3 separate regions of the Homo sapiens genome follow, and regions 1 and 2 are each reported to be linked to region 3. Evidence: microRNA targets listed by miRTarBase, many of them from high-throughput screens and not tested one by one. Region 3 holds a microRNA gene; each other region holds the end of a gene's coding sequence. Distances are from middle to middle.

Region 1 (3,000 bases), not on the chromosome of region 3:
TTGGACTGGGCCAATTTGGATTGCTGGTTTGACTCTTAGAACCCCTTCTAATATGTGAGAGTGACCAGCCTCTAGCAATCCGGCTGGATTCATCAGGGTTAAGCCAGTAGGTGACTGGCCGTTGAGTGTTGACATCCTGGTGCTGTCCCTCCTCTGACCACTAGATTTCAGATTCTTACCGAAGAGGATGAGTGATCTTTCTTCAGAGCAGTGCTCACTAGATCTGGTTATCCAGTGGACAGGATGGTGTCACGATGCTACTTAGGATGAATCTTAATACCAATTTCCCTTCATTCCCACCTAGCAACCTGGTGGCTGCCTATGAGAAAGCAAAGAAAAAGCATCAAAACAAACTGAAGAAGTTAGAGTCGCAGATGATGGCCATGGTGGAGAGACATGAGACCCAAGTGAGGATGCTCAAGCAAAGAATAGCTCTGCTAGAGGAGGAGAACTCCAGGCCACACACCAATGAAACTTCGCTTTAATCAGCACTCACGCACCGGAGTTCTGCCCATGGGAAGTAAACTGCAGCAGGCCACTGGGGACAGAAGGGCCCATGTACTTGTTGGGAGGAGGAGGAAAGGGAAGGCTGGCAGGTAGGTCGGCACTTGGACAATGGAGTGCCCCAACTCAACCCTTGGGGCGACTGGCCATGGTGACATTGTGGACTGTATCCAGAGGTGCCCGCTCTTCCCTCCTGGGCCCACAACAGCGTGTAAACACATGTTCTGTGCCTGCTCAGCAGAGCCTCGTTTCTGCTTTCAGCACTCACTCTCCCCCTCCTCTTCTGGTCTGGCGGCTGTGCATCAGTGGGATCCCAGACATTTGTTTCTGTAAGATTTTCCATTGTATCCTCTTTTTGGTAGATGCTGGGCTCATCTTCTAGAATCTCGTTTCTCCTCTTTCCTCCTGCTTCATGGGAAAACAGACCTGTGTGTGCCTCCAGCATTTAAAAGGACTGCTGATTTGTTTACTACAGCAAGGCTTTGGTTTCCAAGTCCCGGGTCTCAACTTTAAGATAGAGGCGGCCATAAGAGGTGATCTCTGGGAGTTATAGGTCATGGGAAGAGCGTAGACAGGTGTTACTTACAGTCCCAGATACACTAAAGTTACAAACAGACCACCACCAGGACTGTGCCTGAACAATTTTGTATTGAGAGAATAAAAACTTCCTTCAATCTTCATTTTGGAGGCAGGGCTGGGAAGGGAGCGCTCTCTTGATTCTGGGATTTCTCCCTCTCAGTGGAGCCTTATTAATATCCAAGACTTAGAGCTGGGAATCTTTTTGATACCTGTAGTGGAACTAAAATTCTGTCAGGGGTTTCTTCAAGAGCTGAGAAACATTATTAGCACTTCCCGCCCCAGGGCACTACATAATTGCTGTTCTGCTGAATCAAATCTCTTCCACATGGGTGCATTTGTAGCTCTGGACCTGTCTCTACCTAAGGACAAGACACTGAGGAGATACTGAACATTTTGCAAAACTTATCACGCCTACTTAAGAGTGCTGTGTAACCCCCAGTTCAAGACTTAGCTCCTGTTGTCATGACGGGGACAGAGTGAGGGAATGGTAGTTAAGGCTTCTTTTTTGCCCCCAGATACATGGTGATGGTTAGCATATGGTGCTTAAAAGGTTAAATTTCAAGCAAAATGCTTACAGGGCTAGGCAGTACCAAAGTAACTGAATTATTTCAGGAAGGTCTTCAATCTTAAAACAAATTCATTATTCTTTTTCAGTTTTACCTCTTCTCTCTCAGTTCTACACTGATACACTTGAAGGACCATTTACTGTTTTTTTCTGTAGCACCAGAGAATCCATCCAAAGTTCCCTATGAAAAATGTGTTCCATTGCCATAGCTGACTACAAATTAAAGTTGAGGAGGTTTCTGCATAGAGTCTTTATGTCCATAAGCTACGGGTAGGTCTATTTTCAGAGCATGATACAAATTCCACAGCCTTCTGTTCGCTGGAGGATACTCCAGCCACCAGTTCGGAGGGCAGACAGCTGTATCCTAAAAGCAACCACTGAGAGGCCAGCAGTGAGGCTGCCCATCTCCAAAACGAAACAACAGATCAACTGGTATCAGTCTAGAAGGACCAGCTTTGGGGTGCTTTGATCACTATGAAAATGTTCACTGGTTTCTGTCAATCATTTGGTCAAAGTTAGTTCCTGTGATTTTTTTTTTTTTTTTTTGAGATGGAGTTTTGCTCGTCACCAGGCTGAAGTGCAGTGGCGTGATCTTGGCTCACTGCAACCTCTGCCTCCTGAGTAGCTGGAATTACAGGTGCCCGCCACCATACCCAGCTAGTTTTTTTGTATTTTTAGTAGAGACAGGGTTTCACCATGTTGGCCAGGCTGGTCTCGAACTCCTGACCACTGATCCACCCACCTCGGCCTCCCAAAGTGCTGGGATTACAGGCATGAGCCAATGTGCCTGGCCATTCCTGTGATTTTTTAGAATTTTTCACTTTTCATATAAAGTTGCATTTTATCATGAGGAAAATGTTTTGGCTGAAAAACATATGCCCCAAAAAAAAAAAAATCAGTTTTCACTATTTTTCCAGCTTGCCTAGGGAAACGTCCTCCCCTGAGCAAAGTGGGATGTGCATGGCTCTTTTTTGTGATTAAGCAGGCATCAAATGGGCAGTTTTCATTTTCACTGACACAGAAACATGTGGCTGAAGCAGGAATAAAATCCTGCCTACTGACTTCTGTCTCCATTCTTGCTCCAGGTAAAATCAGAGAACCTCCCCTTCTCTGAGAATTCCCCCAGGCAGAGGCGGCTCCAGCTCCTGTTAAGGGCCCCAGTTTTACTCATGCTACCTGACCTTAGTTTTAGTACTTTCAAATGTGATTTGGGTAAAAACTATTTTGCAGGCAAAAGTGTTAATTTTTTATAAATATGTATAATAAAAAAGCTATAAAAGTTTTTCCTTTTCTTGTATTTTTCAAATACTCCCCAAGACACAATCCTTGAAGGTGAACTAGGTGGCACTTGA
Region 2 (3,296 bases), 120 kb from region 3:
TCTCCTGCAGAGACATTAGAAACCTCTAGACTAGTGGCCTGTAATCTAGGAAATCCTCGTGGAAGCATCTTGAAAGATAGTACTGGGAGAAATCTGGAAATTTTACTAGAAGAAACTTTCTCAGCCGCTATAGGTAACATCAAGAGAAGATTGGGACATGTTCTTAAAGCTGAGTTTATAAGAAATGACAAGTTCTTCTCCCTTCTTCTGCATGTGCAGGGCATTGGTTGCTATATGTTCCGAATTGATGACTCAGAGGTAGTGGATGCCACCATGCATGGAAATGCTGCACGCTTCATCAATCACTCGTGTGAGCCTAACTGCTATTCTCGGGTCATCAATATTGATGGGCAGAAGCACATTGTCATCTTTGCCATGCGTAAGATCTACCGAGGAGAGGAACTCACTTACGACTATAAGTTCCCCATTGAGGATGCCAGCAACAAGCTGCCCTGCAACTGTGGCGCCAAGAAATGCCGGAAGTTCCTAAACTAAAGCTGCTCTTCTCCCCCAGTGTTGGAGTGCAAGGAGGCGGGGCCATCCAAAGCAACGCTGAAGGCCTTTTCCAGCAGCTGGGAGCTCCCGGATTGCGTGGCACAGCTGAGGGGCCTCTGTGATGGCTGAGCTCTCTTATGTCCTATACTCACATCAGACATGTGATCATAGTCCCAGAGACAGAGTTGAGGTCTCGAAGAAAAGATCCATGATCGGCTTTCTCCTGGGGCCCCTCCAATTGTTTACTGTTAGAAAGTGGGAATGGGGTCCCTAGCAGACTTGCCTGGAAGGAGCCTATTATAGAGGGTTGGTTATGTTGGGAGATTGGGCCTGAATTTCTCCACAGAAATAAGTTGCCATCCTCAGGTTGGCCCTTTCCCAAGCACTGTAAGTGAGTGGGTCAGGCAAAGCCCCAAATGGAGGGTTGGTTAGATTCCTGACAGTTTGCCAGCCAGGCCCCACCTACAGCGTCTGTCGAACAAACAGAGGTCTGGTGGTTTTCCCTACTATCCTCCCACTCGAGAGTTCACTTCTGGTTGGGAGACAGGATTCCTAGCACCTCCGGTGTCAAAAGGCTGTCATGGGGTTGTGCCAATTAATTACCAAACATTGAGCCTGCAGGCTTTGAGTGGGAGTGTTGCCCCCAGGAGCCTTATCTCAGCCAATTACCTTTCTTGACAGTAGGAGCGGCTTCCCTCTCCCATTCCCTCTTCACTCCCTTTTCTTCCTTTCCCCTGTCTTCATGCCACTGCTTTCCCATGCTTCTTTCGGGTTGTAGGGGAGACTGACTGCCTGCTCAAGGACACTCCCTGCTGGGCATAGGATGTGCCTGCAAAAAGTTCCCTGAGCCTGTAAGCACTCCAGGTGGGGAAGTGGACAGGAGCCATTGGTCATAACCAGACAGAATTTGGAAACATTTTCATAAAGCTCCATGGAGAGTTTTAAAGAAACATATGTAGCATGATTTTGTAGGAGAGGAAAAAGATTATTTAAATAGGATTTAAATCATGCAACAACGAGAGTATCACAGCCAGGATGACCCTTGGGTCCCATTCCTAAGACATGGTTACTTTATTTTCCCCTTGTTAAGACATAGGAAGACTTAATTTTTAAACGGTCAGTGTCCAGTTGAAGGCAGAACACTAATCAGATTTCAAGGCCCACAACTTGGGGACTAGACCACCTTATGTTGAGGGAACTCTGCCACCTGCGTGCAACCCACAGCTAAAGTAAATTCAATGACACTACTGCCCTGATTACTCCTTAGGATGTGGTCAAAACAGCATCAAATGTTTCTTCTCTTCCTTTCCCCAAGACAGAGTCCTGAACCTGTTAAATTAAGTCATTGGATTTTACTCTGTTCTGTTTACAGTTTACTATTTAAGGTTTTATAAATGTAAATATATTTTGTATATTTTTCTATGAGAAGCACTTCATAGGGAGAAGCACTTATGACAAGGCTATTTTTTAAACCGCGGTATTATCCTAATTTAAAAGAAGATCGGTTTTTAATAATTTTTTATTTTCATAGGATGAAGTTAGAGAAAATATTCAGCTGTACACACAAAGTCTGGTTTTTCCTGCCCAACTTCCCCCTGGAAGGTGTACTTTTTGTTGTTTAATGTGTAGCTTGTTTGTGCCCTGTTGACATAAATGTTTCCTGGGTTTGCTCTTTGACAATAAATGGAGAAGGAAGGTCACCCAACTCCATTGGGCCACTCCCCTCCTTCCCCTATTGAAGCTCCTCAAAAGGCTACAGTAATATCTTGATACAACAGATTCTCTTCTTTCCCGCCTCTCTCCTTTCCGGCGCAACTTCCAGAGTGGTGGGAGACGGCAATCTTTACATTTCCCTCATCTTTCTTACTTCAGAGTTAGCAAACAACAAGTTGAATGGCAACTTGACATTTTTGCATCACCATCTGCCTCATAGGCCACTCTTTCCTTTCCCTCTGCCCACCAAGTCCTCATATCTGCAGAGAACCCATTGATCACCTTGTGCCCTCTTTTGGGGCAGCCTGTTGAAACTGAAGCACAGTCTGACCACTCACGATAAAGCAGATTTTTCTCTGCCTCTGCCACAAGGTTTCAGAGTAGTGTAGTCCAAGTAGAGGGTGGGGCACCCTTTTCTCGCCGCAAGAAGCCCATTCCTATGGAAGTCTAGCAAAGCAATACGACTCAGCCCAGCACTCTCTGCCCCAGGACTCATGGCTCTGCTGTGCCTTCCATCCTGGGCTCCCTTCTCTCCTGTGACCTTAAGAACTTTGTCTGGTGGCTTTGCTGGAACATTGTCACTGTTTTCACTGTCATGCAGGGAGCCCAGCACTGTGGCCAGGATGGCAGAGACTTCCTTGTCATCATGGAGAAGTGCCAGCAGGGGACTGGGAAAAGCACTCTACCCAGACCTCACCTCCCTTCCTCCTTTTGCCCATGAACAAGATGCAGTGGCCCTAGGGGTTCCACTAGTGTCTGCTTTCCTTTATTATTGCACTGTGTGAGGTTTTTTTGTAAATCCTTGTATTCCTATTTTTTTTAAAGAAAAAAAAAAAACCTTAAGCTGCATTTGTTACTGAAATGATTAATGCACTGATGGGTCCTGAATTCACCTTGAGAAAGACCCAAAGGCCAGTCAGGGGGTGGGGGGAACTCAGCTAAATAGACCTAGTTACTGCCCTGCTAGGCCATGCTGTACTGTGAGCCCCTCCTCACTCTCTACCAACCCTAAACCCTGAGGACAGGGGAGGAACCCACAGCTTCCTTCTCCTGCCAGCTGCAGATGGTTTGCCTTGCCTTTCCACCCC
Region 3 (3,346 bases):
GCTGCAGCCTCCCCTCACTCTTCTCCCCCGCCTCTGCCCGCCAAAGCTTCCCGTCAGCTGCAGGTAACCCCTCCTTCACTGCCCGTCCTCCCCAGCCTTTGCACCTGTCCACTCTGATACCTCCTGCCAATCCATCAGCCACACAGTACCACCTTGAGTGGAGGCGTCAGCCCAGTCAGGGCAATGAGGGCACCTCTGGGCCCTGAGAGGGTCACTCCTTGGGCAGCCATCCTGGCATGTGGGCAACCGGGGGGCCAGCCTCCATAGTCTAAAACTATCTGATTGAGTGTCTGGTGGAAGAGGATTCTGGAGCTGTGGTCAGTTTGGGATCTGTTTGGTGCCCTGTGCTGAGCTAGGCTGTGGGTCTGGCCTATGCTTGGCAGCCCCCAACACCTGGAGCTTCTCACCCAGTCTGGGGGCCTGACAGGCTCTTGGGCCTGTGGCAACTGGAACTAGTGTGTCCTGGGAAGAACTGCCAGTATTTTGTTCTCCTGGTCTCTCCAGCAGTGACACTTGGAAGCAGAAAACAAAGGGCAAAGACTCTGAAGTGACAGCCTAAGCCTCCTCAGAGTTGCCATGGAGGGCGTGGGCCTACCTGAACCTGCAGCAAGCAACTGACCATGGGGTGGGAAAGGGGGCTGGGCTAGTCTTCTCCTCAGGTTTCCTCCACTGACCAGCTGCAGTGCCTAAGATTGACCATTTAAGATCACCCCTTGAGTGAAGGCACTGCATCTGTAAGACTGTGACCTCAGCTAAAATTTCATGTTTCCTTGGGGAGGAGTTTGATCATGTAAGACTTCTACTGTGTACCCAGCTGGTTAGAGATTTTAACGTGTTTTGATTCTCTGATCATCATCATAGGCCTTTGAGGTAGATGAAGTTAACTCATTTTATAGATGAAACACTGGGGCCTAGAGAAGATAAGTAATCTCTCCAAGGCCACACAGCTAGGAAGTAGCAGAGCTTATGCCACGTCAGGGTTTGTGACACTAAAGGCCATATTCACCACATGCTAGTGCTGCAGGGGAGCTTGGCCATTATTTAGTCTAGTCCTACCCCCTTCTTTTGCAGATAAGGAAGCCAAGGCCCAGAGTAGGGAGGTGTGTGGCCCAAGGTCACACAGCCTGTTAGTGGCAGAGCTAGGACCAGAGGGAACCCAGCTTCTAGTTGGTCTCCTGCACAACTGCCTGACTGACATTAAATCCTTGCATGGGTCTGTTTACAGGTCTTTTCTTAGACCCAGGGTTGGGCTAGGGATTGGCCCAGGGAGGAACAGCCTGGAAAGGAGAATTGGCAGCTGCCAATAGCATCTGGCCATTGGGCTGGCTCAGGAGGCTTGTTGTCAGAGCCAGAAGGCCTCAGAGGCCTAGTGCCAGGGCGGTACGTCAGATCACAGCAGACTAGGTGACATGGGGGAGGTGGCCAATGGGGGAGCCAGGAATCACTGGGCACTATCTTTTCTTTCCAGGTTTACCGCTCCAAGATGGATGGCGAGGCCACCAGCCCCCTTCCCCGGACCCGCAGCGGCCCCCTCCCCTCCTCCTCTGGCTCTTCCTCCTCCTCCTCCCAGCTCAGCGTGGCTACCCTGGGGCGTAGCCCCTCCCCAAAGGTCTGAGGACAGTGGGTGGGGCTGCACATGTGGCTGGGGATGGAGACTTCCACCCTGGGGAGAGGCCAAGACCTTGGGAATGGGGGTAAGGGCCTTCTGAGCCCAGGTCCGAACTCTCCATTCCTCTGCAGAGCGCTCTACTCACCCAGAATGGCACGGGCAGCCTTCCTCGCAACCTGGCAGCCACACTGCAGGACATCGAGACCAAGCGCCAACTAGCTCTGCAGCAGAAGGGTGAGTGACTGCCCCGCCAGCCCACCTGCTCTCCTGAGGGGACCCTGGGTAGTTGCCATGCCTCCTCTATGCTCACACCTTTCACAGGATGTTTTTCCTTTAATTGGGATCTAGGCAAGACCAGAAAGGATTTAGAGTGGGTACCTAAAGAAGAGCTTCCTGGATATTTATCTAAAGCCTTCAGGGCAGGAGACTAAGGGCTTAGGGGGCTGTGACATCTTTCCTAGAGAGCCTAGCCAATAAGGGAACTGCTTGTTGACCTGAGTCGGGTTAGACATTGCCCTCTCTGGAGGGAGGGGATGGATTTGATGACTTCTAGAAATGGTTGCCTGAGATATTGGCTCTGGGGACCCAGGAGTCCTTGTTGCTTGTGTGCAATTTGGTTGTTTTGAAAGCCCATGTCTGTGCCTCTCTCTCCTCTTACCCCCTCTGTGTCTCTACCGTACCCTCTGCCTGGGGTCCCCCACGCCAGTCGAGTCGCTTCCCGCCGAGCCCCTCCCAACCGACGACCCAGCAGGTAGAACGTTGGTCATAGAGGGCATTGCTTTGGCCAGGCAGCCCCTGCCCTGGCATCAGCATGATGTGTCCTGCCCAGGTCCCCACTGCCTGCAGGCAGGGTCCCAGGCTGAGCTGGGTTGGGGTGTCTGCTGGCCTCACCCCTCCAGCTGGCCTCTCTTCTGCCCTCATCTGTGCTCTACCGTGTCTCCCCTGCCTTCTTTCTTGCGTTTGTTGCTTTTGCTTCTGCATTGCAGGGGGGTCTGCATTGGCAGTCTGGGTGCTCATGGGGTTTCTGCCATCTCTTCCTTCTCCCTTCTCCAGCAGGCAGGGTGGGTGCATGTATCCTGCCTAGACCTACTTAGGCCTTGGTTGTGAGCTGGAGCCAACTGGCTGTCGTGCTGCCCCAGCACTACTTGGGTAGGTTTGGTGTCCTATATGGACTCAGGGTGCGAAAGAGCACTGAAGCCAGACTGTGCATCTGTGGCCGGTTGTGCAGGCGACTGAAGCATTGGCAGAGCAGCCAGGCCTGGAGCTGCAGGGGCCTTAGGGAAGCTGCGGGGAGAGGGGGCTGCTCTGTGTTAACCTCTCCCTGCTTGCCCCTCCCTCTGTGTGTTGTGCTGCCAGTGGCCTGCTCCTTAGCTGCGTGGGGAGCCCACTGTGACTCCCATCTGTCTCTCCTTCAGGACAACAAGTGATTGAAGAGCAGCGGCGGCGACTGGCTGAGCTGAAGCAGAAAGCGGCAGCTGAGGCACAGTGCCAGTGGGATGCCCTTCACGGGGCAGCACCCTTCCCAGCGGGCCCCTCGGGCTTCCCCCCTCTCATGCACCACTCTATCCTACACCACCTGCCTGCGGGGCGGGAGCGTGGGGAGGAGGGTGAGCACGCCTATGATACGCTGAGTCTGGAGAGCTCTGACAGCATGGAGACCAGCATCTCCACCGGGGGCAACTCGGCCTGCTCCCCTGACAACATGTCCAGGTACACCCGACGCCTGGGCCCGCAGCC

The links. The annotated mature microRNA hsa-miR-6716-5p reads UGGGAAUGGGGGUAAGGGCC and lies in region 3 at 1,684-1,703, shown strand. An mRNA with a match to its seed (bases 2 to 7 or 8) in the 3' UTR can be bound and repressed. Matches are read on the target gene's strand: a 7mer-m8 pairs with bases 2 to 8, a 7mer-A1 pairs with bases 2 to 7 and ends in A, and an 8mer does both.
Region 1: the mRNA of MCC is a reported target of hsa-miR-6716-5p. The part of its 3' UTR that is shown has no 7-base or 8-base seed match.
Region 2: the mRNA of KMT2A is a reported target of hsa-miR-6716-5p. Seed matches in the 3' UTR shown: 7mer-m8 at 1,197-1,203.

The regions. Positions count from the first base shown.
Region 1 is chr5:113,024,787-113,027,786 of GRCh38, reverse strand. It overlaps MCC (MCC regulator of Wnt signaling pathway), which reads left to right. Exons shown (of 19, transcript NM_001085377.2): 19 at 305-3,000. The coding sequence ends at 485. Among named protein-coding and RNA genes, the nearest start is that of DCP2, 49 kb to the right of the region's middle.
Region 2 is chr11:118,521,678-118,524,973 of GRCh38, forward strand. KMT2A (lysine methyltransferase 2A) reads left to right here. Exons shown (of 36, transcript NM_001197104.2): 36 at 220-3,296. The coding sequence ends at 495. The region is part of intron 1 of TTC36-AS1 (TTC36 and KMT2A antisense RNA 1); the gene reads right to left. Among named protein-coding and RNA genes, the nearest start is that of TTC36, 4.1 kb to the right of the region's middle.
Region 3 is chr11:118,642,332-118,645,677 of GRCh38, forward strand. It overlaps MIR6716 (microRNA 6716), which reads left to right and starts at 1,669; the gene lies at 1,669-1,748. PHLDB1 (pleckstrin homology like domain family B member 1) reads left to right here. Exons shown (of 23, transcript NM_001144758.3): 13 at 1-63; 14 at 1,469-1,609; 15 at 1,741-1,843; 16 at 3,025-3,319. RefSeq lists an enhancer at 1,644-2,143.